Homo sapiens: one gene and its partners. Each later gene encodes a partner of the first gene's protein in a complex. Each region holds a gene or a part of one and is shown in the gene's direction. Other genes may lie near its edges.

What was found.
Region 2: the proteins of KBTBD4 (region 1) and HDAC1 are in contact, whole or in part, in a cryo-EM structure (PDB 8VRT), measured with the Homo sapiens proteins. Residues at the interface, in NP_060565.4 of Homo sapiens: Cys290, His291, Gln292, Arg312, Arg313, Trp326, Pro329, Leu330, Pro331, Arg332, Asp333, Arg334, Thr355, Gln357, Ser361, Ala363, Val373, Trp374, Thr375, Glu376; in NP_004955.2 of Homo sapiens: Gln26, Gly27, Pro29, Glu98, Asp99, Gly149, Phe150, His178, Lys200, Glu203, Tyr204, Phe205, Pro206, Gly207, Asp230, Gly268, Asp269, Arg270, Leu271, Gly272, Cys273, Ser348, Asn349, Met350, Thr351, Gln353.
Region 3: KBTBD4 (region 1) and RBX1 share a complex: the UniProt entries of both Homo sapiens proteins name them as parts of the BCR(KBTBD4) E3 ubiquitin ligase complex.
Region 4: the proteins of KBTBD4 (region 1) and HDAC2 are in contact, whole or in part, in a cryo-EM structure (PDB 9GGM), measured with the Homo sapiens proteins. Residues at the interface, in NP_060565.4 of Homo sapiens: Cys290, His291, Ser309, Arg312, Arg313, Trp326, Pro329, Pro331, Arg332, Asp333, Arg334, Thr355, Gln357, Ser361, Ala363, Val373, Trp374, Thr375, Glu376; in NP_001518.3 of Homo sapiens: Gln27, Gly28, His29, Pro30, Asp100, His142, Gly150, Phe151, His179, Lys201, Gly203, Glu204, Tyr205, Phe206, Gly208, Asp231, Gly269, Asp270, Arg271, Leu272, Gly273, Cys274, Tyr304 (codon at 1,144), Arg307 (codon at 1,153), Asn350 (codon at 1,819), Met351 (codon at 1,822), Thr352 (codon at 1,825), Gln354 (codon at 1,831).

Annotation. Positions count from the first base shown.
Region 1 is NC_000011.10:47,575,926-47,583,416, reverse strand, and holds the start of KBTBD4 (kelch repeat and BTB domain-containing protein 4), read left to right. Parts: upstream 1-4,446; 5' UTR 4,447-4,465; coding exon 4,466-4,484; coding exon of another isoform or gene 4,485-4,505; exon of another isoform or gene 4,506-4,589; intron 4,590-4,645; exon of another isoform or gene 4,646-4,758; coding exon of another isoform or gene 4,759-4,876; intron 4,877-5,319; coding exon of another isoform or gene 5,320-5,388; coding exon 5,389-6,006; intron 6,007-7,491. Other genes in the region: NDUFS3 (NADH dehydrogenase [ubiquinone] iron-sulfur protein 3, mitochondrial precursor), read right to left, coding at 949-1,068, 1,204-1,329, 2,433-2,582, 2,795-2,892, 4,083-4,148, 4,259-4,325. UniProt on the Homo sapiens protein: Substrate-specific adapter of a BCR (BTB-CUL3-RBX1) E3 ubiquitin ligase complex which targets CoREST corepressor complex components RCOR1, KDM1A/LSD1 and HDAC2 for proteasomal degradation.
Region 2 is NC_000001.11:32,287,919-32,295,158, forward strand, and holds the start of HDAC1 (histone deacetylase 1), read left to right. Parts: upstream 1-4,164; 5' UTR 4,165-4,251; coding exon 4,252-4,300; intron 4,301-7,240. UniProt on the Homo sapiens protein: Histone deacetylase that catalyzes the deacetylation of lysine residues on the N-terminal part of the core histones (H2A, H2B, H3 and H4).
Region 3 is NC_000022.11:40,954,061-40,961,401, forward strand, and holds part of RBX1 (E3 ubiquitin-protein ligase RBX1), read left to right. Parts: intron 1-7,341. UniProt on the Homo sapiens protein: E3 ubiquitin ligase component of multiple cullin-RING-based E3 ubiquitin-protein ligase (CRLs) complexes which mediate the ubiquitination and subsequent proteasomal degradation of target proteins, including proteins involved in cell cycle progression, signal transduction, transcription and transcription-coupled nucleotide excision repair.
Region 4 is NC_000006.12:113,939,883-113,947,223, reverse strand, and holds part of HDAC2 (histone deacetylase 2), read left to right. Parts: intron 1-1,075; coding exon 1,076-1,216; intron 1,217-1,753; coding exon 1,754-1,862; intron 1,863-2,813; coding exon 2,814-2,944; intron 2,945-3,717; coding exon 3,718-3,873; intron 3,874-5,458; coding exon 5,459-5,516; intron 5,517-6,135; coding exon 6,136-6,166; 3' UTR 6,167-7,341. UniProt on the Homo sapiens protein: Histone deacetylase that catalyzes the deacetylation of lysine residues on the N-terminal part of the core histones (H2A, H2B, H3 and H4).

The DNA of each region.
Region 1 (7,491 bases):
GGACAGACTGTGTCGTCAAGGCTGCCTTGATCATTAAAATGATCATTACAATAATGGATAACACTGGCCAGGTGTGGTGGCTCACACCTGTAATCCCAGCACTTTTGAGAAGCTGAGGCGGGCAGATGACTTGAGCCCAGGAATTCGAGACCAGTTTGGGCAACATGGAGAAACCCCGTCTCTACAAAAAATACAAAAATTTGCTGGGCATGTTGGTGCATGCCTGTAGTCCCAGCTACTCGGAGGGCTGAGAGGTGGGAGGATTACTTGAGCCTGGGCGGTCAAGACTGCAGTGAGCCATGATCGCACCACTGCACTCCATCCTAGGTGACAAGAGTGAGACCCTGACACACACACACACACACAGCATCAATTGAGCCTTTACAATACAGCAGGCTTCATACATCATTTATTTATTTAGAGACAGGGTCTCACTCTGTTGCCCAGGCTGGAGAGCAGTGGCGTGATCTCGGCTCACTGCAACCTCCGCCTTCTAGGCTCAAGCGATCCTCCCACCTCAGCCTCTTGAGCAGCCAGGACCACAGGAATGCACCACCATGCCCCGTTAATTTTTCTATTTTTTTGTAGAGAAGAGGTTTCACCATGTTGCCTAGGCTGTTCTCGAACTCCTGGACTCAAGCACTCCTCCTGTCTTGGCTTCCCAAAGTGCTGGGATTACAGGCGTGAGCCTACACATACATTATTTAATGCCAGCCACAAATCTATTAAAGTGCTATTATTATTGCCATTTTAAGATGAGAAAACTGAGTTACAGTCAAACCAAGTAACTTGCCCCAGGTTACAAAAATGAAGCTAGGATCTGAATCCAGGGCCCATGCTCTTAAACCACCACAATCCACAGACCGTATTTCTTGCCATTCCCAGGGATCCCCTGGGTTCTCTGCAAGTCCCTCCCTGAGGCTGCTGTCCCAGTTCCAAGGCTCCTACCTCAACATAGCCAGATAGAGGAAAGTCTTTCCGGAAAGGATGTCCCTCGAAGCCATAATCTGTCAGGATCCTTCTTAGATCAGGGTGGTTAGCAAAGAAGACTCCAAACATGTCCCAGATCTAGGAAAGAGACCACCTCAAACAGCCAATCCATCAAGACTAACAACAGGGGGAAGGGGCTACACTGCATCCCGTAGTCTGAACCAGTTCTGCAACTGTGGCCCAGAGGCAGGTCCACCATATCCGGTAACTCACCTCCCTTTCATACCAGTTGGCTGCCTTGAACACAGAGACAGCAGACTCAATGGGCGTCAGCTCATCTGTGTAGGTCTTCACACGGATCCGTGAGTTGAAGCGCAGAGACAACAGGTTGTAGACAATCTAGGGAGAACAGAAGGATCTGGAGGGCTGAGATGGGAGTCCCTGATTGGGAGAGTTCTGCCCTGTGACCCTGCCTTCTATTCTGAACCTCAAAACCTCAAGATTCTCCTATGCTTACAACTACTTCCAAAGGCCCAGGCCACAGCTGTAGCTTAGCATGTCAGCATGCCTGTGTTTGCTCATGCTATTCACTTTGTCAGGAATATTTCCCTGGTCCATCTCACAAGGCTACCTGGTCTCCTACTCATATTTTAGATTCAGCACAAACATTCTCTCTTTTCAAAGAAGCCTCCCAGACAGGGCCAAGTGCCCCTCCTGCTTTCTTAAAGCATCCCTCTAATATCCTTTGTATTATATGTTACTACAGTAAGCTGTTTAGGTGTCTTTCTCCTTCACTAGAGTGTAGGGGACTCCTGGAGGACAAATACTTCATGTTATTTCTCTCTCCATCCCAGAGTCTGGCAAACAGTAGATAATCAGTAAAATATTAATAGCTAAATGTATTGAAAACACTGTGTGCAAGCAATTTACTTGAACTATCTCATTGGATCCTTATAACCATTCTATAAGATAAGGACAGCTTTATATTTATTTTCCCGGTAAGAAAATGAAAGCTCAGAAAGATTAAACAAGGGCCGGGCATGGTGGCTCATGCCTGTAATCCCAGCACTTTGGGAGGCCAAGGCAGGCAGATCACGAGGTCAGGAAATTGAGACCATCCTGGCCAACATGGTGAAACCCAGTCTTCACTAAAAAAATACAAAAAATTAGCCGGGCGTGGTGGCATGCACCTGTAGTCCCAGCTACTCAAGGGGCTGAGGCAGGGGAATCGCTTGAACCTGGGAGACGGAGGTTGCAGTGAGCCAAGATCATGCCACTGCACTCCAGCCTGGCGACAGAGCAAGATTCCGTCTAAAAAAAAAAAAAATTAAACAAAATATTTGAGTTATCTGAGGTCCCACAGCCATTTAGTGGCAGAACCAAGATCCAACTTCAGATCTACTTGACTCTGAAGTTCCAGTTTAACTGCTGTGTTCTATTGTATGTTACAAACTGAAATTAATATCCTTACCCCCAAAACCTTCTCAGATCTCCCAACTGACCTCAAAACGGTTTTGCCGAGTTGGGACGTCCACTGCTGTCAAGTCAACCAGAGATTTGAACTGTGCATTGGTGTGATCCCTGAGGAAAGTCAGCACTGGGATGACGCCATCAGGATGGATACAGACCTCTAACTCATTGAAGCAGGACACCTGCACACATGAAAGTGAGGGGAGAGGGAACAAAGAGCTACTGAGGGAACAGCTAACTTCAGCTGGAGTCACCTGGTTTAATGCTGAGAGAAAAGTCCAAGCTTGGGATGGAGGAATCTGTAGTTTCTTTGAAACAAGTCTGCCCACTCCCACATGCCCTGCGAACATGGTTCTTTCTTGACCCAGACCCAAATAACATTAGTAAGTATTACCTGAACTTGTTGGACATACTTGGGCAAGATTTCAGCCACATACTCTCCAAAAGCTGAGAGCTGCTTGTGGGCCACATCATTCCGTGGTCTGACAGTGGCTGGAAGGAAAAGGCATATTTAAAAAAGAAATGGAGAAGGCAAAAGCCAGCCCTGCATGCAGTCTCTTAGGCTTGTAAGGGATGTCAAATCCAGGAAAGGCTCCCTGAAGCACCTTGAGAAAGGTGCATGTGAAAGGTTTCCCTTCTAGGGAATACAGTGATGAAAACTTGGGGAAAGTGCCACCTTAACTACACGGTCCTCAGAAAGACTCTTACTATAGCAGCTGGGGTGTTCACCTCTTCTCAAAATTACTCCACAGTTCTTCCCTCACATTGCCTGCATTTCTGCTAAAGCAGTAGTCTCAGTTCTCCTGTCAGACTAAGAGCTGTTTGAGGATGGGAACTGAACTTTTGCCTCTCTGTAGCTCCTTAGCACGCAAGTTTATACCAGGTTCTCAAGCTAAGAACTTCAGGGCTTGAAGATCCCTCACAGACTCTCTCTCTCCTTAAAAGTGTGTGTGTGTGTGTGTGTCAATGAGAAAACTGAGGCCCAGGTGTGTGTGTGTGTGTGTGTGTGTGTGTGTGTGTGTGTGTGTGTGTCAATGAGAAAACCCAGGAAAGGAGAAATGCCAGGTCTCCTAACTCCCAGTCCGTGTATCTTGACTGTAACATAATATGTACATACTCATTCATGCAACCCTAAACCACTGAGCAATCACACATCACAAGCTACAGAATAATGGTTAGGTGTTTCTGCCTCTGGCAGCAGGCAGGCCTACTTTGTCATTCACTAGGTCTTTGACCCTGGGCAGTTTAATTCTTTGGACTGTTTCCTGATCTATAGTAAGAAGAGTAAGATGCTATCTACCCCATAAGGCTGTTGTGAGGACGAAATAAGATCATTCACTAAAACGCTTAGCGAGGTTCCAGGCACACATTAAGCACTCAATTAACGCTAGGTACTATTATTACAGGGCTCTGAGGCCTAAAGGTTATATTGCTTGCTTTCAAAGAGCTGACAGTTTAATCAGACAAAAAGGGGATGATTGAAATGGACAAGGAACAATCAGGGCCATAACAGGCCTAAGGGCACAGGGAGGGCTCGATTCTGCATGCAGGGTGAAGACCACTGCAAGTCAGATCTCCAAGATTTGCCAGGAGGACGTAGGGAAGGGCATCCTAGGGCAAGGACAGGCATCTAAGGGGCCCCGCCGATAGTTCAGAGAAGAGCGCTGCCCGCACATACTCACGGCGCGTGTCGGCCCCGGCGCTCTCCCGCCTCACCGGCAGCAACAGAACGGAGGGTCGCCCAGTCCCTGCACAGGGAGATAAAAGGCACAGACGCGCGGGATGAGCCCTGAGGAGCTCTCTGCACTGGGCACGCCGCTGCGCCTGACCCCGGTCTCAGCTGGCTGCCCGTGCTCACCCCTGGTCAGCGCCGAGGCCCCCAAGATCCCGCGCCACCACAGCCTGGCTACCGCCGCCGCCGCCATGTTACTCAGATGCAGACTAGGCAGCGGACGGAAAGACAGCAGGACACGGAGCCCCAAGGGCACGGACCGGAAACGGAAGTGTGCAGCAGATCTTCTTCCGGGCGGACGTGGAGCCGGAAGCGGAGGTTCCGGGCTCCGGGATGAAAGGAGGGAACGCAGGTGAGAAAGCGAGACAGGCAGGTAGGGAAATCGTGAGGTGAGCGTGGTCCTAGCTCCTTGTGGCAGAGCCTAGAGAGAAGGCGAGGACGCTGAAGAACCAGGCGGGTGAGAGGAGGGGAGGGGGCGGGCGTTTTGGGTTCTACGCTACACACCCCTCCCCCGCTCTCTGAGCCAAGCTTTTGACGAGGGCGGGCGGGCCTGAGCGGGAAGAACGGTTTCCCTGGCGACCGTTTCCAAGACGACTCAAGGTGGAGCGGGGACATTGCACAGGGTGATGGGCCTCCCAGTGCCCCGGCCTGGGGGCGGATGGACTCAAGTTCTGGGACGCAGCCATAGGGAGTCTTTCGAGCGAGCGGGGAAGTGTGGGGGAAGCAGCTCAGAAGAGAGCAAATGTAAGACCCACGGATATCCCAGGCTAGGCTTCATATGGAGCGTCTTAACTCCATGCGCTGGGAAGGAGAGGACCTGGCCACTAGGCCGGGGCCAGGGGTCCTTTTTGTCTGATTCTACTGCCCCTGAGCTTCACTAGTTTTATGCCCCAGTTATTTGGTTAGTAAGGCTTTTACGATCACAGGCCTCTCCCAGCCCTTTGCTTTCATATATTGACCTAAATCCCAAGTCTTTTGTTAACATTATGGAAAGGAATTATTCCGTGTTTTCTCAGGAAAACACCCAGAGTTGGAACTTTTATTTATATCATTAGCGGAGGGGCGCCACTGGGGATAACGAACCCAGATTTGGTTAAAGGATAGCGTCAGGGACATCATGGACAGGGCCAGGACTAAGGCCAATCTGGACCCACTTTGCTCTCACTTCTTCCTTTTCCCTCCCTGAGTTGGACAGTTGGATTCACAGACTATGGCTGTGAATTCCTCAGGTTACTCAAGATGGTGTTGCTTTGCAGACAGCTGGCAGAGAGAGAAGTTGGCTAGCATGGAATCACCAGAGGAGCCTGGAGCATCCATGGATGAGAACTACTTTGTGAACTACACTTTCAAAGATCGGTCACATTCAGGCCGTGTGGCTCAAGGCATCATGAAACTGTGTCTAGAGGAGGAGCTCTTTGCTGATGTCACCATTTCGGTGGAAGGCCGGGAGTTTCAGCTCCATCGGCTGGTCCTCTCAGCTCAGAGCTGCTTCTTCCGATCCATGTTCACTTCCAACCTGAAGGAGGCCCACAACCGGGTGATTGTGCTGCAGGATGTCAGCGAGTCTGTTTTCCAGCTCCTGGTTGATTATATCTACCATGGGACTGTGAAACTTCGAGCTGAGGAGTTGCAGGAAATTTATGAGGTGTCAGACATGTATCAGCTGACATCTCTCTTTGAGGAATGCTCTCGGTTTTTGGCCCGCACAGTGCAAGTGGGAAACTGCCTTCAGGTGATGTGGCTGGCAGATCGGCACAGTGATCCTGAGCTCTATACGGCTGCCAAGCACTGTGCCAAGACCCACCTGGCCCAGCTGCAGAATACAGAGGAATTTCTCCACTTGCCCCACCGCTTACTCACAGATATCATCTCGGGTAAGTTTAGGGAGGGGACACACCATACCCAGTTACTTGGCTATGATGTTCAGTGAATGTTCTAGTTTAGGAGAAAAGAACCCTCAAGCTTCCTGGTGTTAGTTTACATTATTATTCCTGCATTCTTACTGAGATAACCTGCTGAGAAAGATTGAGGTGAGATTCAGTGTAATTGCTGTCAGAGACACAGTGCGTTAGAGGAAGAAGTCAGGAAAATTAAAGCACAACATTTAACCACACAGAGTAGTGAGGAGTGATTTGTATTATACTCTAATTTATCCTGTACTTCGTATGTCCCAGTGGGTCTAATTACCTATGTAAATTGGTGATGGGGCAAGATATCTAAGACTAAAAACTTTTTTAGTGATGGGCCAACGTTAGGAAACAATCCTAACCTTGCAAGTGAGATATAGCCATACTTAAGGTGTGAGGTTGGCCAGGCATGGTGGCTCACACCTGTAATCCCAACACTTTGGGAGGCCGAGGTGGGTGGATCACCTGAGGTCAGGAGTTCAAGACCACCCTGGCCAACATGGCGAAATCCCGTCTCCACAAAAAATACAAAAATTAGCTGGGCATGGTGGCTTGCACCTGTAGTCTCAGCTACTTGGGAAGGCTGAGGCAGGAGAATCACTTGAACCCGGAGGCAGAGGTTGCAGTGAGCCAAGATCACGCCACCGCACTCCAGCCTGGGCGACAGAGCAAGATTCCATCTCAAAAAAAAAAAAAAAAATGGTGTGAGCTCTGTAGCTTAGTAGGTTGCTTCCATGGCAGATGGGAAAATATCGAGTCATCCATTTTGATTTTAAAAAAGCAAGGCACATACTCTGGTTTCTCTTCAGATTGTATAAATCTTTTACCTTTTACTAAAGATTTCCATGGAGAGGAACGGTTATGAGTCTTTACCCAACTTTTTGAGGGCTCATGTAACACATGAGACTATCTTTAAAAAAGAGCAAGGTACGGGCCAGGCGCAGTGGCTCACGCCTGTAATCCCAGCACTTTGGGAGGCCGAGGCGGGCAGATCACGAGGTCAGATCAAGGCCATCCTGGCTAACATGGTGAAAGTACAAAAAATTACCTGGGCATGGTGGCAGGCGCCTGTAGACCCAGCTACTCGGGAGGCTGAGGCAGGAGAATGGCGTGAACCCGGGAGGTGGAGCTTGCAGTGAGCCGAGATCACGCCACTGCACTCCAGCCTGGGCAACAGTGCAAGACTCCATCTCAAAAAAAAAAAAAAAAAAAAAAAAAAGCAAGACCCGCCAGGCATGGTGGCTCATGCCTGTAATCCCAGCACTTTGGGAGGCCAAGGAGGGAGGATCCCTTGATGGCAGGAGTTTGAGACCAGCCTGGACAACAGTGAGACCTTGTCTATACAGAAAATAAGAAAATTAGCCAGGCGTGGTGGTGCACACCTGTAGTCCCAGCTACTTGGGAGGCTGAAACAGGATTGCTTGAGCCCAGGAGGTTGAGGCTATGGTGATG
Region 2 (7,240 bases), on another chromosome or scaffold:
AAGGCCAAGGTGGGCAGATTGCTTGAGCCCAGGAGTTTAAGACCAGACTGGACAACATGGCAAAACCCTGTCTCTACCAAAAAAAAAAAAAAATTAGCAGGGTGTGGTGGTGCACACCTGCAGTCCCAGCTACTCAGGAGGCAAGCTTGTATTCCTAGCTACTTAGGAGGATAGTTTGAGCCCAGGAAGTCAAGGCTGCAGTGAGCATGATCCTGCCATTGCACTCCAGCCAGAGCAAAAAAGAGAGCGAAACCCCATCTCAAAAAAAAGGGAAGATTTAGCTATGTTGGACTTACCTGTCCTCATGGAGCTGAATAATGGCCACCCCTCCAGGTAGGGCCTGAACTCTACCTTTGCCAGAGTCCCCTCCACTCCCTGTTGGTCTTAGACAATGAAACTGAGTGTTAGTAGCTATTTACCACCAAGCTCATGCTTGTTGTTCTTATAATAAAGATAAATGGTTTAATAAATGGTATGATAAAGAAAATTATATTATGGTATTATACCATTTAATAAATGGTATAATAAAGAAAATGGTTTTTTGCACCCACATTTCCATTAAAAAGTGAGAAAATTAAAGATACCTGAGGATGGCAGAGTGTTTGATGAAAGATAGGGAAATGTTGGCCAGGCACCGTGGCTCACACCTGTAATCCCAGCAGTTTAGGAGGCCGGGGCAGGCGGATCACAAGGTCAGGAGTTCAAGATCAGCCTGGCCAACATAGTGAAACCCCGTCTCTACTAAAAATACAAAAAATTAGCCGGGAGTGGTGGCAGGTGCCTACAATCCCAGCTACTCGGAAGGCTGAATGGCGCGATCTCAGCTCATTGCAACCTCTGCCTCCCAGGTTCAAGCCATTCTTCTGCCTTAGCCTCCCTAGTAGCTGGGATTACAGGCGCCTGCCACCATGCCTAGCTAATTTTTATATTTTTAGTAGACGTGGGGTTTCGCCATGTTGGCCAGGCTGGTCTCAAACTCCTGACCTTGGGTGATCTGCCCGCCTCGGTCTCCCAAACTGCTGGGATTACAGGAGTGAGCCACAGTGCCCGGCCTCTAATTTTTATTTTTAATTTTTTTAATTTTTATTTTTTTAATTTTTATTTTATTTATTTTTTGTAATTTTTAAAATATACAAAAAAAGGGCCGGGTGTGGTGGCTCACGCCTGTAATCCCAGCACTTTTTGGGAGGCTGAGGTGGGTGGATCACGAGGTCAGGAGATCGAGACCATCCTGGCTAACATGGTGAAACCCTGTCTCTACTAAAAATATAAAAAAATTAGCCGGGCCTGGTGGCAGGTGCCTGTAGTCCCAGCTACTCGGGAGGCTGAGACAGGAGAATGGCGTGAACTCGAGAGGTGGAGCTTGCAGTGAGCCAAGATCGCACCACTACACTCCAGCCTGGGCGACAGAGTGAGACTTCATCTCAAAAAAAAAAAAAATTATATATATATATATACATATATATATGCAAACAAAGAGCATCTGAGTCATAATAATGTAAATCTATCACCTGACTGACCTGCTGCCACACCTCATGATCTCATCTGATCCCCACACTCCTTCTCTTTGGGATACTGTGTACAGCCATAGCGTGGGTGAACTTTGTATTCCTATCCTCCCCATTTTTGTTATTTTATTTTATTTCTTATTTATTTGAGACAGAGTCTCACTCTGTCATCCAGACTGTAATGCAGTGGCCTGATCTCGGCTCACTGCAACCTCCACCTCCCGGTTTCAAGCGAATCTCCTGCCTCAGCCTCCTAAGTAGCTGGGACCTACAGGCACACACCACCACGCCCAGCTAATTTTTGCATTTTTAATAGAGACGGGGTTTCACCGTGCTGGGCAGGCTGGTCTCGAACTCCTGACCTCAGGTGATTTGCCCACCTCAGCCTTCCAAATTGTTAGGATTACAGGCATGAGTCACTGTGCCCGGCCTCCTCCCCATTTTATAACAAGGGAAATGGAGGCCCAGAATGGTTAAGTAAACCCACCCAGGGCTAGCTGAGAATTAGCAACAGAGAACTGGGAGTAGAATTTGTTCCCTGGCCCTTTGCTGTTTCTATTATAAGCCACCCAGTCTTAGATTTTCTGTTACCTTATAATTAATGACTCAAATGCAGTTTCTGAGTGAGAAACACAAGTCCCAAACACTCTTTAAAGAGGCATAAAGATGTATCTTGTTGTTTTCTTTTGTTTGAGACAAGGCCTGGCTCTATTGCCCAGGCTGGAGTGTGGTGACATGATCTTGGCTCACTGCAACATCTGTCTCCTGGGCTCAAGCCATCATCCCACCTCAGCCTCCTGAGTAGCTGGAACTACAGGAGCGCGCCCCCACACCTGGGTAATTTTTCTATTTTTTGTAGAGATGGGGTTTTGCCATGTTGCCCAGGCTGGTCTCGAACTCCTGAGCTCAAGTGATCCACCCATCTTGGCCTCCCAAAGTGCTGGGATTACAGGCGTGAGCCACTGTGCCCAGCCTCTTGTTGACTGTAGGACCACAAGTTGGCGGCTAACTTAGAGCAATGTTTGGCACACAGGAAGCACTCATTAAATATTGACATTATTGTAGTTATTTTAATAGCCCAGCATTGCACTTTTAGGTCTTTCAGCTTTCAGTGATGATCAGTTGATAATTGATGATCTGGTGGAGTGGTTCTTAATGGTAGAGTTGGGGGCAATTTTACACTCCCTTACACCCCACTAATCTTCCCCCCAACCCAATGGTAAAGCTATTGCACAGTACTTGGCAATGTCTAGAGACAATTTTGGTTGTCACAGCCTGGGGGGAAGGTGCTACTGGCATCTAGTGGGTAGAGGCTAAGGATGCTGCTTAATTTTTTTTTTTTTTGAGACAAGAGTTTCACTCTAGTTGCCCAGGCACAGAACAGCTTCACAGAAGCTGTTAATGCACAGAATAGCTTCCTACAAAAAAGCATTACCTGGCCCAAAATGTCATTAGCTACCAGGCTGAGAAACCTGCCCTCCTAGGCCGGGCGCTGTGGCTCACGCCCGTAATCTCAGCATATTGGGAGGCCGAGGTGGGCGGATCCTGAGGTCAGGAGTTCGAGACCACCTGGACCAACACGGAGAAACCCAGTCTCTACCAAAAATACAAAATTAGCCGGGCATGGTGGCACATGCTTGTAATCCCAGCTACTCGGGAGGCTGAGGCAGGAGAACCGCTTGAACACAGAGGCAGAGATTGTGGTGAGCCGAGATCACACCATTGCACTCCAGCCTGGGCAACTAGAGCGAAACTCTTGTCTCAAAAAAAAAAAAAAAAAAAAAAACAGGGAAAGAAAAGAAAGGAAACCTGCCCTCCTATCATAGGATAATCCCATTTCCTCCTGTCTAAAGAGACGCCTACTTAGTCATCCTGGGTGACTGCATCAGGGAGGTAGATTTTGGAGTCTGAAAGGCTGGGTTCTGTCACTTTGTTACAGTGCCTCTGGTGCAAAGAAAGCATTTTAAAAACCCTGTACAATTAAAAAATTGAATTTAATTACTTTGTGTAACTTTGAATAATTCACAGAAGTCTGAACTTCTTTATCCTGTCCTGTAAAATGGAGGTAAAAAGCCCTTGGCCGAGAGCTGTTTTGAGGAAAAACTGAAATAACATTGGTAAAGTGTCGCACAGTACTTGGCACACAGCAGCCCCTCGACAAACATTAGCTTTCTTTCCCTTTCTTGTCGGTTTCTTCCTCTCCAAACCCGCGTGTTGCTTTTCTTTTTAATTATTTTTCTGTAGCCCTCCTTTGCGGCCACAAACTCGCTTTCTAACCCAGGTTCAGCCCTTTTATTGGCTGAGTGACCTTGTGCAAGTCACTTTTCCCCTGTAGGCCTCGGTTTATTCTCCGTAAAATCAGAAAGTTGGCCTCCGATCTCCAAGCACGCTTTTCACGACGAAGTGGGACTGTTAAGTTTACAGAGCTGCTTTCCTCCCCCGGGACTGATGGTACGGTCCCCGGGCGGCTCCCCACCCATCTGTCGCAGACCTTGGTACAGGCCCAGGGGGCCCTCGGCGGCCTCTCCGGGCTGCCCTTGCCCCCTGCCGAGTTCCGGGCCCGTGTCTGCGCAAGCTGATTGGCTGGAGCGGTGCCCGGGCTGCGCGGCTATAGGTGAGCCCAGGAGGGGACGGGCGGGGCGGGCCGGAGGCCCGCCCCCTCCCCCCTGGGTCGGACGCTGAGCGGAGCCGCGGGCGGGAGGGCGGACGGACCGACTGACGGTAGGGACGGGAGGCGAGCAAGATGGCGCAGACGCAGGGCACCCGGAGGAAAGTCTGTTACTACTACGACGGTGAGCACCGTCCTCGCGGCGGGGGCGGGGCCAGGCCGGGCCGGACCGGGAACCTGGAGGCTGAGGCTGGAGCGCCGATGGGAGGCTGCGGGAGGCTGAGGCGCTGGGGAGAGGCTCGGAGAGGAGGCTGCGAGGGGGAAGTCGAGGCTGAGGGAGGAGGCTGCGAGGAAGGGAGATCGAGGCTGAGACCAAGAGGGGATCGCGTGGGGGAAGCGTGAGGTAATCTTGATGGGAAGATTCTGAGGAAGTCTGATGTGGAGAGTTTGAGTGGGACTCCTAGAGGGGAGGGTGCGTCGGAGCGGGGAGGCTGAATCTGATGGAGACGGCTGCAAGGATACATTTTCTTGCCGAGAACCCAAAGCTCTTCCCTGCCCCGTCCCTTCCTCATCTTTTCTGGGGGAAGAGTCCTGCACGACTGGTTGCCCGCCTCCCCTCCCCCAGCCTCTGAGCGGGGCCTGCGGTTGCTACTGCGACGTGGGGCGCCAGGGGTTGCAAGGAGAAGGATGCAACCTGTTAAAACAGACTTCTCACTTAATCTCTCAAGCAGGTTACTGTGTTCGAGGAAGTGTTGAGGGGCTGGGGCCGTGGGGTTGATCGGGTCACCCTTCCCAGTGACCGAAGTTCTCTCCGTGTCAGAGCTCAGAGTGTTAGGGGAGCACAGAGAAGAGGCACCGAACTCCACCTGAGGAGTCAGCGAAGGAGGGGACATCTTAGTTAGGACCTGAAGAACAGGAGTTCTTAGCCAGGCACAGGGAAGGCAAAGATAACAGCAAGTTTCAGAGGCAAGAGAGAGGACAGGACCTTTGAAAAACAGGCATTTGGCCGGGCGTGGTGGCTCACGCCTGTAATCCCAGCACTTTGGGAGGCCGAGGCTGGTGGATCACCTGAGGTCAGGAGTTCGAGACCAGCCTGGCCAACATGGTGAAACCCCGTCTCTACTAAAAATACAAAATTAGCCGCGCATGGTGGTGTGCGCCTGTAATCCCAGCTACTCTGGAGCCTAAGGCAGGAGAATCCCTTAGAACCCGGGAGGCAGAGGTTGCAGTGAGCTGAGATCGTGCCACTGCACTCCAGCTTGGACAACAGAGCGAGGCTCTGTCTTAAAAAAAAAAAAAAAAAAAGATGTAAATAGGGACCGGACCATGAAGGGCTGGGCATGCTGTCCCAAGGAAGTTGGACTTTATTGAGGGCACTTGTGAGTGATTCAAGTTTTATGCAGGTTATTGACATCATCAGGTTTATACCTTAGAAATTAAAGTAATGGGGGCCAGGTGCAGTGGCTCACACCTCTCTAATCCCAGTACTTTGGGAGGCTGAGGCAGGCAGATCACTCGGGGCCAGGAGTTCAGGACCAGCCTGGCCAACACGGTGAAACCCCATCTCTACTAAAAATACAAAATTTAGGCTGGGCACGGTGGCTCACGCCTGTAATCCCGGCACTTTGGGAGGCTGAGGCGGGCGGATCATGAGGTCAGGAGTTCAAGACCAGCCTGACCAACATGGTGAAACCCTGTCTCTACTAAAAATACAAAAATTACCCGGGTGTGGTGGTGCGCACCTGTAATCCCAGCTACTCAGGAGGCTGAGGCAGGAGAGTCGCTTGAACCCAGGAGGCAGAGGTTGCAGTGAGCCAAGATTGCACCGCTGCACTCCAGCCTGGGCAACAGGGTGAGACTCCATCTCAAAAAAAAAAAAAAAAATTAGCGAGGTGTGGTGGCACATGCCTGTAGTCCCAGCTACTCAGGAGGCTGAGGTGCGAGAGTTGTTTGAACCTGGGAGGCAGAGGTTGCAGTGGGCTGAGATCTCACCACTGCACTCCGTCCTGGGCAACAGAGCGAGACTTCGTCTCAAAAAAAAAAAAAACAAAAAAATTCAGATTGTAGGGGTAAGGAAGAAGGCATGGATCCCAAGTTCCTGGTGTGGGCAGTATTTTTTATTTTTTGAGATGATGTCTAGCTCTGTCACCCAGGCTGGAGTGCAGTGGCTTGATCTCGGCTCACTGCAACTGCAACCTCCACCTCCCAGATTCAAGGGATTCTCCTGCCTCAGCCTCCTGAGTAGCTGGGATTACAGGCGTGCGCCACCATGCCTGGCTAGTTTTTGTATTTTTATTAGAGATGGGGTTTCACGATGTTGGCCAGGCTGGTCTCAAACTGACCTCCAGTGCTCCATCTGCCTCAGCCTCCCAAAGTGCTGGGATTATAGGCATGAGCCACACTTCCTGGCCTCTGATGTGGGCAATTTGATGGTGAGTGTTTGGAGGTTTGGAGAATGCCATGTCAGTTGATAACTTTTTTTTTTTTTTTTTTTTGAGATGGAGTCTCGCTCTGTCGCCCAGGCTGGAGTGCAGTGGCGCAATCTCGGCTCACTGCTGCAAGCTCCACCTCCCGGGTCCATGCCATTCTCCTGCCTCAGCCTCTCCAGTAGCTGGGACTACAGGCGCCCGCCACCACACTGGGCTGATTTTTTGTATTTTTAGTAGAGACAGGGTTTCACCGTGTTAGCCAGGATGGTCTGGATCTCCTGACCTCATGATCCGCCCGCCTCGGCCTCCCAAAGTGCTGGGATTACAGGTGTGAGCCACCGCACCCGGCCCCAACTTTTTTTTTTTTTTTTTAAACTTCTAGAGATGGGGTCTCAATATGTTGCCTGGGCTTGTCTTGAACTCCTGTGCCTGGCCTCAAGCAATCCTGCCACCTTGGCCTCCCAAAGTGCTGGGATTACAGGCCTAAGCCACTGTTTTTTTTGTTGTTGTTGTTTGTTTGTTTAGAAATAACTATTGATAACTGTTAAGATGTTTAGGGGACATCCAAGTAGAGGCATCCAGTAGGCAGTTTAGAAGATAGAAATTTTTTGGTAGTCATCAGTATCTTAGTCTGCTATAACAGAACACTGTTTATAAAGAACAGAAATTGCTGAATGTGGTGGCTCACGCCTATA
Region 3 (7,341 bases), on another chromosome or scaffold:
CAGGAGTTGACCAACCTGGCCAACATGGTGAAACCCTGTCTCTACTAAAAATACAAAAATTAGCTGGGCGTACTGGTGCATGTCTGTAATCCCAGCTACTTGGCAGGCTGAGGCAGGAGAATTGCTTGAACCTGGGAGGCAGAGGTGGCAGTGAGCCGAGATCACACCACTGCACTACAACCTGGGCGACACAGCAAGACTCAAAGTCTCAAAAAAAAAAAAAAGTCTATCTGATCTAATTTTTGCTGGTCATTGTTTACAAAGGAAAGAAGCGTTAAGGAGTGAGGATTTTGTATGTTAGGCCCAAACATAATAAAAAGGAAATCATTGCCAACATCTAAATAAATAATTAATTGCACTAAAGAAATTTCATTTAAATCTCCACATATTTTATTACATGTAGTGGTCAGCACATAGTGATCTGATTATAGTCTTTGATGAACTGATTTCCTGTCCTTACAGTAGAAGGGACAAGAATGTTGATCACACCAGGAACAGTTGAGGTTACTTTTTCATCCGGGAACTAAAATGATTTGTTACTGAGGCCAGAAATGGAGGAAAGAAACTTTAAGTTTCTAGAAATGGAATTATAGGAACTTATTTTTCAGATCACTCACCTGCCTTTACAACTTTGTCTTGAGTCACTCCTGCTCACTCTGTTAGTTTACCTGGATGCTTTTTTTTTTTTTTAACTGACCACGGTGGCCAAAGCAGCCATGGCCCCGGCCAGTTTTCCATTTTTTTTCCTTATTCTGAGATGGAGTCGCCCAGGTTGGAGTGCAGTGGCGTGATCTCAGCTCACTGCAACCTCCGCCTCCCGAGTTCAAGTGATTCTCCTGCCTCAGCCTCCTCAATAGCTGGGATTACAGGCACCTGCCACCACACCCAGCTAATTTTTGTATTTTTAGTAGAGACACAGTTTTACCGTGTTGGCCAGGCTGGCCTCGAACTCCTGACCTCGGGTGATCCGCGTGCCTCTGCCTCCCAAAGTGTTGGGATTACAAGCATAAGCCACCATGCCCGGCCTGCTTTTCCATTCTTAAGTGTCCATGCTCTATTTTAGAGCCCTTAAATAGCCTAGTCTTTTTTGCCTAGAATATTCTTCACCTCTTCTCTTCCTTGGTTTTGTCTAACCCAGCACTGTCCAATCTGAATGTAAGCCAGTACAAACACGTATATAATTTTAAATTTTCTTTTTCCTTTTTTTTTTTTTTTGTTTTTTTCAGAGACGGGATCTCGCTTTGTTGCCCAGGCTGGTCTCGAACTGGCTTCAAGTGATCCTCCCACTTTGGCCTTCCAAAATGTTGCGATTATAGGCGTGAGCCACTGTGGCTGGCCTGAAATTTTCTAGTATCCACATTCATAAAGTAAAAAGAAAATAAAAAGGTGAAATTAATGTATTTTATTTAACCTTATATAGTCAAAATAGTTTTACTTCAACATGTAATTGATGTAAAAAAAAAATGAGATATTTTACATTCTGTCTTTGTACTATCTTTGAAATTCTGTGTATTTTACACTTACAGCACATCTGGATTCAGACTAGCCACATTTCAAGTGCTCAGTAGTCACATGTGGTTAATAACTACTTTATTGTGCAATGTAAGACTAACCCATAGTTGAGCTTTAGATCTTATCTTAAACTTGCTCAGATGTTTTCAACTTGAAAAGCACGAATCAAATATTTTCTGTTGGAAAGCAGTCATGGCTTATACTGGTCATGTATTGCCCTTGGCTTCTTTGAGCTTTGACACTGTTTATCTCTTCACACTACAGCCAAGGAAGATCAGCACCTACCATAATGTTTAATATAGATGCCGTGAACCCATCACAGAAAAACATATGCAGGGTTTCAAATGTGTTTGGGTGGGGTCTTTGATTACATGCTTGCCAGTTTCTCGGCCTTGCATTTTCACAAGGAGTTATACCCAGAGAAAATTTTACTTTCTTGGGGCTCTGTTTTGAAAATAGTTAATGATTTTTAATGATTTTATATAACCCTGATTTTTTTTTCTCTATATTTAAGTCAGTGTATATGTGTCTCTGGATATGAGAGAATGTACTTCTTAAAAGGACCACAGAAGACAAAGGCGATCTATATTGTCTTCTCTTAGAGTGAAATGCTTGAGACATCATATTAGGCTTTCAGTGGGATACCTGTTTTGTTTCATAATATATTTTGAATGTCAGATGAAGTAGGATATTGAAATCCTATAACAAAAACTTATGAAAGTATTTTCTAAGTCCTATCTTTTATTTATCCAATGAATATATCCTGAGCATCCTGGTAGGCACCAGGATAAAACAATGAGTGAGATCGGGCAGGTCTTTACCTTTTTTTTTTTTTTTTTTTTAAAGACAGAGTCTCTGTCGCTCAGGCTGGAGTTCAAGTGATTCTCCTGCGTCAGCCTCCCAAGTAGCTGGGACTACAGGTGTGGGCCACCTCACCCGGCTCATTTTTTGTATTTTTATGAGAGACAGGGTTTCACCATGTTGGCCAGGCTGGTCTCAAACTCCTGACCTCAGGTGATCCATTCGCCTTGGCCTCTCAAACCGCTGGGATTACAGACATGACCCATTCAAACTCCTGGCCTCAAAAAAACCACCCCCCTTGGCCTCCCAAAGTGCCGGGATTATAGGTGTGAGCCACCATGTCCGACCTCAAGTCTTTACCTTTAAGAAACACACTCTTAGGCCAGGCGTGGTGGCTTACACCTGTAATCCCAGCACTTTGGGAGGCCAAGGCGGGCAGATCACAAGGTCCAGAGATCGAGACCATCCTGGCTAACAAGGTGAAACCCCGTCTCCACTAAAAATACAAAAAATTAGCTGGGTGCGATGGCGGGCGCCTGTAGTCCCAGCTACTTGAGAGGCTGAGGCAGGAGAATGGCGTGAACCCAGGAGGCGGAGGTTGCAGTGAGCTGAGATCGCGCCATTGCACTCCAGCCTGGGTGACAGAGTGAGACTCCATCTCAACAACAACAAAAAAAAGAAACATACTCTTAGGCGGGGCGCGGTGGCTCATGCCTGTAATCCCAGCACTTTGGGAGGCTGAGGCGGGGGGATCATGAGGTCAGGAGATCCAGACCATCCTGGCCAACACAGTGAAACCCCATCTCTACTAAAAATACAAAATTAGCCAGGCGTGGTAGCACGCACCTGTAATCCCAGCTACATGGGAGGCTGAGGCAGGAGAATCACTTGAACCTGGGAGGCAGAGGTTGCAGTGAGCCGAGATCCTGCCATTGCACTCCATCCTGGACAAAAAGAGCAAAACTCTGTCTCAAAAAAAAAGACACTCTTGGCCAGGTGAGGTGGGTCACACCTGTAAACCCAAGACTTTGGGTGGCTGAGGCGGGCAGATCGCTTGAGCCTAGGAGTTCAAGACCAGCCTGGGCAACATGGCGAAACCCTGTCTCTACAAAAAATTAGCCAGGCATGGTGGCTTATGCCTGTGGTCCCAGCTACTTGGGAGGCTGAGGTGGGAAGATCCCTTGAGCCCGGGAGGCAGAGGTGACAGTGAGTCAAGATTTTGCCACTGCACTCCAGCCTAGGTGAGAGAGTGAGACCCTATCTCAAAAAGAGAAACACTGTTTATTTTTTATTTTTATGTATTTTTTTGTTAGAGACAGGGTCTCACTCAAGTGCCCAGGCTGGAGCGCAGTGGCACAGTCATAGCTCACTGCAGCCTTGACCTGGGATCAAGCAGTCCTCCTACCTCAGCCTCTAAGTAGCTGGGACCACAGACGTGCACTACCACACCTAGCTAATTTTTTTTTTTTGGAGGCGGAGTCTCACACTGTCACCCAGCTGGAGTGCAGTGGCACGATCTCGGCTTACTGCAGTCTCCACCTTCTGGGTTCAAACAATTCTCCTGCCTCAGCTTCCCGAGTAGCTGGGATTACAGGTACCCGCCACCACACCTGGCTAATTTTTTGTATTTTTAGTAGAAATGGGGTTTCACTATGTTGGCCAGGCTGGTCTCGAGCTCCTGACCTCATGATCACCCATCTCGGCCCCCAAAGTGCTGGGATTACAGGTGTGAGCCACCGCATCTAGCTGCTAATTTTTTAATTTTTTGTAGAGATTGGGTCTTGCTGTGTTGTCCAGGCTTGTCTTGAACTCCTGGACTCAAGCAATCCTCCTGCCTTGCCCTTCCAAAACACTGAGCTTACAGGTGTGAGCCACTGCCCCTGGCCACACACTTTTATTATAGACACTGAGGAGAAGTCTGAGTGCCATAACTTAAAAAAAAAAAAAGGATTTATATGGGAAAAGAACTTAGCAAGTAAAGAAAAAAATGGATTTATCATTTTTATAAAGACAATTTTTGTTAAAGATGAAAGTAAGAATCTAGATTTAGCAACGGTTGTATTTTAATAAATCTTGTCTGACCTTAAATGAGTAATTATATACATAGCTCTAAGTAAATAAGAATGATTATGGCTGTGCCCTAGTCGGATTCTGAAGACTTCCTCTTTTAAGTCCATATTGATTCTGCATGCCCTCCTGTACCTTTGTATTTATTTTATTTTACACTGTCTCCTTCCTTGGTTGTATTAAGGAGTTGCTGAAAAATCAAATATGTGAGGTTTTATTTTCTCTATTACCTCTGGTAATCTTATTCCTGATGATGGGGAATCTTCATCATCTTAGACCCAGCCTTGGCCCAGAAGATGTTAGCATCTACCTAAAACTACAGATCCATCAGTATTTTGGTTTGGTTTGGTTTGGTTTGGTTTGGTTTGGTTTGGTTTGGTTTGGTTTGTTTGAGACAGAGTCTTGCTCTGTTGCCTCGGCTGGAGTGCAGTGGCATGATCTCGGTGCACTGCAACCTCTGCCTCCCAGGTTCAAGCTATTCTCCTGCCTCAGCCTCCTGAGCAGCTGAGACTGCAGGTATGCACCAGCATGCCCAGCTAATTTTTGTATTTTTAGTAGAAACAGGGTTTCACCATGTTGGCCAGTCTGGTCTCTTTAACTCCTGACCTCGAGTGATCCACCCGGCTCGGCCTCCCAAAGTGCTGGGATTACAGGCGTGAGCCACCACGCCCGGCCCCGTCAGTGTTTTGAAAGTGTAATCTGTCTACTCTTGAGATGAAGCCATTGCTTCCTTAACAGTTCTTTGGTGGTACAGCGTTTTTATCAAAGCTTAAAGGTCCCCAAGCTTTATAAATCACATGATAGGCTTCTGCCTTGGCAGGGGTGTGACATGAACCCGTTATGTGCCACTGTCAACCTGTTCTGGGTTGACAGTGAACAGTTCCTGCCCGTTTAAACTAACTGGACTCAACCCCTGTACTTACTCTCTGCAACAAAAGCTGGAAAACTTTTGTATTGAGCACATTTTACACTAATATTTAATCATTTTCCCTGCTATATCCCTTCTTATTTGGTACTCTAGATTGCAGTAATATCCCTCCTATACATTTTTGTTCTTTGTTAGGAATTTTGTAGTAAAGAATGAATCTGGCCGGGCTCGGTGGCTCACGCCTATAATCCCAGTACTTTGGGAGGCCAGGACGCGTGGATCGTGTGAGGCCAGAAGTGCAAGACCAGCCTGGGCAACGTGGGGAAACCCCATCTCTACTAAAAATACAAAAAATAGCCAGGCATGGTGGCGCATGCCTGTAGTCCCAGCTACTTGGGAGGCTGAGGCGGGAGAATCACTTGAACCTGGGAGACAGAGGTTGCAGTGAGCCAAGATTGCACCAGTGCCCTCCGGCCTGGGGGGACAAAGCTAGACTCTGTCTAAAAGAAAAAAAGGAATGAATCTTGGTCGGATGCAGTGGCTCACGCCTGTAATCTCAGCACCATGGGAGGCCGAGGCAGGCAGATCACTTGAGGTCAGGAGTTAAAGACCAGCCTGGCCAACATGGTGAAACCCCGTCTCTACTAAAAATACAAAAAATTAGCTTGGTATGGTAGTGCACACCTGTAATCCCTGCTACTTGGGAGGCTGAGGTGAGAGAATAGCTGGAACCCGGGAGGTGGAGGTTGCAGTGTGGAGATTGTGCCACTGCCCTTCAGCCTGGGCAACAGAGCGAGACTGTCTAAAAAAAAAAGAATGAATCTGTATTTGTCCCGTATTTCTTCTATTTATAGAAATAGTTTTTGTTTGCTTGTTCAAGTACCAAGAGCCTAATTTGCACTTGGCATAGAAAGACCAGGTCCCTGCTCTGTGGGAGCTTTGAGTTGAGGGGGAAGGAGGGAGGTCAGGTATGTAAAGAGATACTCATAATTGATGTGTTAAGAGTGCCTGAAGGAGAGGAAAATGACTCAGGGTGGAAGAGTCAGGAAAAGCTTCAGTCAAGAAGTAGGGATTTAAGCTGGGTCTTGAAGGGTGGGGAGGACTTGAGAGTGATAGGAGGAGGAGCATGTTCCAGGTATGGCAGGGACGAAGGAAAGGACTCTACCGTGAAGGGAGCCTGAAGGGTTCTTTAGGTTAGTAGTGCCATGGCCACAGTCAAAAGAAAGACCCAGATCAAATTTAAACACGATAATGTACCTTGAAACAGTTTTGATTTTCACTTTAATAATTGTGGCTCTTATTTAGCTAATTTTATAATACATAGTCTTCCTCTAAGTTAGAGGATCCAGCTTAAAGGACATCATATTTACTTTTCTCTGCCATTCTTTTAATTATAGTAGTGTATTCCAGTTTCAATAAGTTCTTAAATACACTGCATAGACCCTAGATCCCTTTTTTGTTTGTTTTTAAGATGGAGTCTCGCTCTTTCACCCAGGGTAGAGTGCAGTGGCGCGATCCCAGCTCACTGCAACCTCTGCCTGCCAGGTTCCAGCGATTCTCCTGCCTCAGCCTCTCTAGTAGCTGGGATTATAGGCATGCGCCACCCACCACACCCGGTTAATTGTTTGTATTTTTAGAAGAGACAGAGTTTCGCCATGTTGGCCAGGCTGGTCTCGAACTCCTGACCTCAGATGATCTGCCTGCCTCGACTTCCCAAAGTGCTGGGATTACAGACATGAGCCACCACGCCCGGCCGAGCCACCGTGCCTGGCCTTTTTTTTTTTTTTTTTTTTTTTGATAACAAGGTTTTGCTCTGTCACCTAGGCTGGAGTGCAGTGGTACGATCATGGTGCACTGCAGCCTCAACCGCCTGTGCTCAAGCCATTCTCCTGCCTCAGCCTCCTTAGTAGCTGGGACCACAGGCATGTGCTACCACAACTGGCTAATTTTTTTATTTCTAGAGATGAGATGTTGCTGTGTTGCCCAGCCTGGTCTTGAATTCGTGGGCTAAAGTGATCCTGCTGCCTTGGCCTCCCAAAGTGCTGGGATTACAGGTGTGAGCGACTGTGCCTGACCCAATTCTTTATTTTTAT
Region 4 (7,341 bases), on another chromosome or scaffold:
CATCTTTGTTTAGCCAGCTATCTTTACTTGGAAGCCTGTAAGTTAACTTTTAGTATGTTTGTTTTTTCTTTAAAAATATCCAAATGGTTTTTATCTGTTAAAAGAAACTTTTCTAGTAGCAATAATAAAAATTGAGTGCTAGAATTATGTAAATCACATGTTGCAACTATTGAAGAATGCTTAATGAAAATTCCCACAGTATACAGTTACATGAAGAGAACAGATAAACTTTGTAAAATTAACTCTGAAATGGAAGGAAATATAGAAAAACGATTTTTGAATAATGTCATTTTTAGGTGGTTAGTTTTTTCATTGTCCCTTTTTAATTTTTTCCCAAATACTCTTCAGTATGCACAAATGTCTTTTGTAATTGAAGGATTTTCTTTTCTTCTTTAAAGATTGAGTTATGTGCCTAACTGGTAATATTCCGAGAAGGGAACTTACTGGAAACTTATAAATGTTTATTGAATTATGACATTTATCCACATAAAATATTTACTTTTATGTTAGGTTTACTATTAATATTAAATTTCTACACGTAGAAGTTGAAGTTTTTGAAAATTAATAGATGTTTTTAACTCTTAAGTTAGGAAAACTACTCAGTACCACTACCTAAAGTTAACTCAGGGTTAAACTATGTTGTTTAGCTTTCCATAATTATTTTACACATGTCCATAGGGAAAGAAAAGTCAATAAAAATTAATTTAGATGATACATAATGTTTTATTGTAACATGATGAATTTCACCATGTAACCCTACATGAACATCTTTCTGTGTTAATAAAATAGGTGTATATTCATATTATAATCTTAATATAGTTGTGTACTTGACTTTTCCATCAGGGACACCTGCTAAAATAGCTAGTTATATCTTAATTTTTTAATATGTATTATTGTATAACGTGTTTGGAAAGGAGTTTTAGACTTGACATTTTTTACATTTTTATTTGTTTTTAAAATATTTAGAAAACCCATTTTGGTTGAGTAACATTTGCACTTATTATCTTTTTAAAATTTATTTTTCGAACTGTTGCAGTATGCAGATTTTGTTGTTACCCAAATCTTCTTGTCTTAGGTCATGCTAAATGTGTAGAAGTTGTAAAAACTTTTAACTTACCATTACTGATGCTTGGAGGAGGTGGCTACACAATCCGTAATGTTGCTCGATGTTGGACATATGAGACTGCAGTTGCCCTTGATTGTGAGATTCCCAATGGTAAGTGTTCTCATTACAATATCTTTATTGTATGAACTGTCAATACAGATGCTCCTCTAATTATGTTGCAATTAGGTCCTGATAAACCCATCATAAGTTGAAAGTATGATAAGTAGAAAATGGATATAATACACTTAACCTACCAAACATGACTTAGCCCAGCCTACTTTAAACGTGCTCAGAACAGTTAGGTTAGGCTTCAGTTGGACAAAATAATCTAATACTGAGCCTGTTTTATAAAAATAAAACGTTGAATATTTCATGTAATGTACTGAATACAAGACATTGAAGTTGGTACAAAAAAGCCAGAAAACTGTAAGTCAAGCCATTGAAAGTCAGAGACTGTCTGTATATAGAAATAGATGGATGAATGATTAGAGTAAGTGCCATTCTTTATAAATAGGAGAACATTCACTTTGTGTTCACTTTTAAACATTTTCTTAGGAAATATTTCACCACCTAAATCTGGATTCTGTGCATGGTTTTTTGTGAAAACTGAGCTTGTAATATGTAACTTTATTTTATTGTTTTCATTAGAGTTGCCATATAATGATTACTTTGAGTATTTTGGACCAGACTTCAAACTGCATATTAGTCCTTCAAACATGACAAACCAGAACACTCCAGAATATATGGAAAAGATAAAGTAAGAAATCATTGAATTGTTTTGATAAACATTTTATCTTGACAAAGATTTAGTATGCTTTAAAGGGCCAAGTATGATGGGTCTTTTTAACTTTATTAGATATTTTGTTTTTTTCTAAAGGATTTGAAACATTAAGTTACTGATTATTCTTTTTTTTTTTTTTTAATTTTTAATTTTTTTGTCAGGATGGGATATTGCTTGGTTGCCCAGGCTGGTCTCGAACTCCTGGCTTCAAGTGATCCTGTCACCTCTGCCTCTCAGAAGTGCTGAGCTTACAGGCATGAGCCACCGTATTCAGCCATTTAATTTCTTCAGTTAATGGAAATAATTTTTTTTATTAGTTGAAATGTATTTTAAAATTGCAAGGTGCACTATAAGTTATTTTCATTGTCTGGAACATTTTGTTAAGGCTTTGTCTCCACAAGCAAAGTAGAGACATTATAGTACATAGCATGGGTTTGAGTCACCTCTGTACCACAAACAAGCTGTATGATGTTTGATAAGTTCACTTGCCTTTGTGCTTATGTTTTCTCATCATTGAAATGGCAGGCTAAAATAATGCCTCCTTGGCCAGTCAAGGTGGCTTATGCTTGTAATCCTAATGCTTTGGAAGTCCGAGGTGGGAGGATAGCTTTAGACCAGTAGTTTGTGACCAGCCTGGGCCATATAGTGAGACCTTGTCTGCAAAAAATTTAAAAATTAGCCGGGCATGGTGGCATACACTTGTAGTCCTAACGCGCAGAGGCTGAGGCAGGAGGATTGCCAGGAGTTTGAGGCTGCAGTGAGCTATGATCTTGCCACTGCACTCTAGTCTGGGCAACAAAGAGAGACCTTTTAATATATAGGTTTAGCTAGACCAAAGATGAAATTTTTTGCTAAATATTTTCTCTTGCATGTAAGAACTGCAAAGAAATTTAATTTTGTCTAATAAACTTTGCATGTGTAATTTAGACAGCGTTTGTTTGAAAATTTGCGCATGTTACCTCATGCACCTGGTGTCCAGATGCAAGCTATTCCAGAAGATGCTGTTCATGAAGACAGTGGAGATGAAGATGGAGAAGATCCAGACAAGAGAATTTCTAGTAAGATAATGCCTTTATTTTTCCAATTTGTCAAAATGATAATTGAAATGGAAGGTTTTAGTGGCCTAAGAACTTCACTATAAAGTCATGTTCACGAGCACACTGTTAATATTGTCATTTTTGCCACTTTCAGAGATTTAGCTTCCTGATGTCTCAGAACCTGATTTGGGTGTCAGCAGTTTCAGTTTGTATGGCTGGATATACATATATGATTGAAAGTTTTCAAAAATTAGCAACTTTAGTATATTTGGAAATTAATAAGACATCTCATTTATCTAAAGTAGGGTGAACTAAATAACTAAACATCTGTTTGATTTTACAACTTCTCATTACACTTAATGTGATGGTTAGATTGTAGCATAACAGTATGTGTAATGGTATAGACTGTCTAACATATTTGGTATTGGTACTTTTTTTTTGGTCTACTTCACCTCTCAGCTCTGAAATAAAATGCTACTTTTTAAGTAATGACATTATTCCCATCCCCTATTAGAAAAACACACTTTTTTCCTTTAGAGTTTCAGCATTTTTAAAGAAAAAGAGATTCCCCCAATTTTTATTATGTGTTTTTGAGCCATTTCTTCATACATGAAAGCAAAGTTTTCAATATTAAATAAACCATTCATTCCATTCAAATTTTAAAATCATTAGGCATGTTACCCTTTACGTTTAAATGTGGTAACTAACTGCTTAGTGCATTTGTATGAGTATGCTGTAATGATTATAAAACCTGTGACTGTTTTTGTCAAAATTTATTAAAATATTCTGTGCAGTTCGAGCATCAGACAAGCGGATAGCTTGTGATGAAGAATTCTCAGATTCTGAGGATGAAGGAGAAGGAGGTCGAAGAAATGTGGCTGATCATAAGAAAGGAGCAAAGAAAGCTAGAATTGAAGAAGATAAGAAAGAAACAGAGGACAAAAAAACAGGTCAGATTTGTTTCTTGGTAATTGTGTTTTAATTGTAAATTTTAAAAATTGGGCTGCATTATAATGTTTATGCTATCGAGAAGTCAGTTGCACAGGTATCAGGAGGAAGTATGCTAGGTAGGTGACTCTTTTTTCTTACATATAAGTGGTACTTAGCTCTTAAAGCTTTTATATAAATGTTATTGTTCCTATTTGCTTTAGTAATACAGGAAACCTTATTTTCTTGATAACATAGGTTTAAAATAGTGAACATTGCATTGTGATATAGATTGGTTAAGAAAGAGGACAAAGTAATTATGAATCTATTGGTAGTGCATGGTCAGAACTGAACTTCTAAGGTAATTTTTAGCTACCTAAAGCTTATTTAATGGGAGAAAACACAAAGAAGAGTTACATATCCTTAGACCAGTTTTGCCATTTTGAAAAAGGTCAAATAATGGATTTTGTTCAGAAATTGAAGAAAACATTAAAAACTCTGAGGAAAGCTAGGAGGGGATTTGGGACCTGGGTTAGGGAGGAAAAAATACTTTGATACATTGCCTTACTTTAAAACGCTGTGTTAGCTTTAGGCAATTGAATTTGCTACCGGAATCTGTTACCTTTCATCTGACTTCCCAGAACACTTACACATGCCTCTGCCATTTTATTTAACACATCATATTATAGCACCTCACAGGATTTTGTCTCCCTACTAGACTGAGCTGCTCATGGCTAGGGAACACAGTATCTTAAATATTTGTATTCTCAGCACTTGATGCATTTCCTAATGCAAGTAATGGTGATGAGCACACGTTTTAGTTAACCTGTTAATTTTGATCCTGTAGTATGTGAAAAACTGATTTAGAGATAATGATCCAATTTTTCCTATGTCTATCAAATTGAAGTTATGTGAATAAGCCAGCTTTTTTTTTTTTTTTTAAACTAGAGAGTTAGTAATCTATAACATCTGACACATTTAGTTCTGTTCTTTTACTTGTGGATTCACTCCTCAATAGGCTACATACAGAAATTTATAATTTTAACTTCCCAATGTATTACAATGATGGCTTCAGTCTATATTTGTAACTGATTGACATCCAAAAATTCAAGCCATGACTGAATTAAGGACGACTTAACTTTAGCTGTAGGATTTTCCTAACTTTTTTTCTTTTCTTTCATTTTCACTATGTTTTCTTGTCTGTCTGTTTTTGGTGTTCTCATTTTTAAAAGCTTTATCTTTTCTGTGCTTAAAAAATAAACTCTCTATTTGGTGATGAGGCTCTTTCGATAGGGCCTTGCAGTTGTTAAAATTCTTCAGCCTACTGAAAAATGAAATACTACCACAGAAAGCTTTTTTTAAATCTATAGGTCAAAACCTAGAGTTAGGGCCACCTTTTCTCCCTCTGCACCCCAATCCAGTGACTATTCATAGCTTGTACTGCCATCGTTTAGGAAACACCCAACACAAAGCTTATTTAGACCGAATTCATTAATAATAAGATTGCATAACTTTTTATATTTTAAAAATAAAGTATATTTTGAAATAATATATATACATTTTATATTTCAAAATAGGTTTTAATCTTTTCCCAATCTTTATTTTTAGACGTTAAGGAAGAAGATAAATCCAAGGACAACAGTGGTGAAAAAACAGATACCAAAGGGTAAATGATGTTCCTTATCAAGTACTTTTTACATACTATAAAAATACTAAACATGTTTATTGGTGTGTGTTTGTGTACACACTTCAGAAATACTAGACTGAACCTTAGAACATCATTATGAGGTGCTCTGAATTTTAGTTTGTATTGGTACATAAGACAACATATGCCATCTTACCTATTGGTTTATCAGTATAACTATATCAGTCAGTTTGTATTCTTGTACGTAGTTTATCTGAGACCCTTTTTTGCTGTTATCTTTTATATATGCACTTAATGGTTTTCATGGTGTTCTTATTTCTGTGTACATGATTTTTTTAGTGTTGTGAGATAGGTAAATTTAAGAAACAATTTTAAGTAAAAACAGTTGAGGATTTTAGTGTCAGAAAGCATGTAAATGTTTGGGCACACATAATTTTGTGCCAGCCTTTACAGGATAACTTGGAATAGTTTATTAAATCACTAGAAAAATTAAGGCATTAATTACTCCAGAAACACTTAAGACATTATCAATTAATGTGTTTCTTAGCATGAGCCTACAGGACCTGATCAATATAATAGGTCAGTGCATTTAAACCAAGATTGTGCCATTTTTAATATTTCACATTGCCTCTTTTAACAGAACCAAATCAGAACAGCTCAGCAACCCCTGAATTTGACAGTCTCACCAATTTCAGAAAATCATTAAAAAGAAAATATTGAAAGGAAAATGTTTTCTTTTTGAAGACTTCTGGCTTCATTTTATACTACTTTGGCATGGACTGTATTTATTTTCAAATGGCTTTTTCGTTTTTGTTTTTCTTGGCAAGTTTTATTGTGAGTTTTTCTAATTATGAAGCAAAATTTCTTTTCTCCACCATGCTTTATGTGATAGTATTTAAAATTGATGTGAGTTATTATGTCAAAAAAACTGATCTATTAAAGAAGTAATTGGCCTTTCTGAGCTGATTTTTCCATCTTTTGTAATTATCTTTATTAAAAAATTGTACTTGGATTATCTTTTGTCTGTTTATTACTACAATATGAAGTCTTGTTTCAGTGGCTAATGACATCATTTCTGTAGACTTACAATACACTCTAGGTGAAAGATAATGATTACAGCTTGAAAGATAACTATTTGCTGTTTCTTTGGGAAGAGTATTTATAGTAATTATTACTTATCTTTGCAATAGAAATTCTACCACCTTGCCCTCTATAGCTTAGCCAGTTAGTATCAGTGAAGATTAACATCCCATTACAATTTATGAAATAATACAGACTCTGCAATTGAGATGTAGGAGTTCTTTGAGTTGACCCAAAGATTCTCAAAATTGAAATGGAAATTCTGAATTGAAAGAAGAAACTGACCAGAACTTGTATTGACCAGACTTGCCTATAGTATATTGCTGGTTTAAAATGGAACCTGCAGACAAAACCTGTTTCTTTTACTGCATTTACATGGCATCCAGGTTCCATTATTATTTACGTGACATCCAGGTTTCTAACTCAAGGAAATAAACACAACTGATTTATCATTCAGCAACTACTTATTGTGTGTCTGCCCATTTTAAGACTGTAGGAGTGTAACTGAATATAATGGAAAAATGCTTTCACTCAGAGCTTACACTCAGAGCTTACATTCTAGTAGCAGGAAGCAGACAAATGGGGGTAACTCCTGCTACTAAGATGTGCAAAGAAGACAAAACATTTTAGGAACTTGCCAAAATCAGTGAAATCTCCCTTTTTGTCAGGCCCACATTGATTCTTTTGAGATTAAAAATTACAGAATGCCAGAAGATAATTCAGTCAAAAGTATTTCTCTTCAGTGCAGTAAAATATTAAAAGAAAA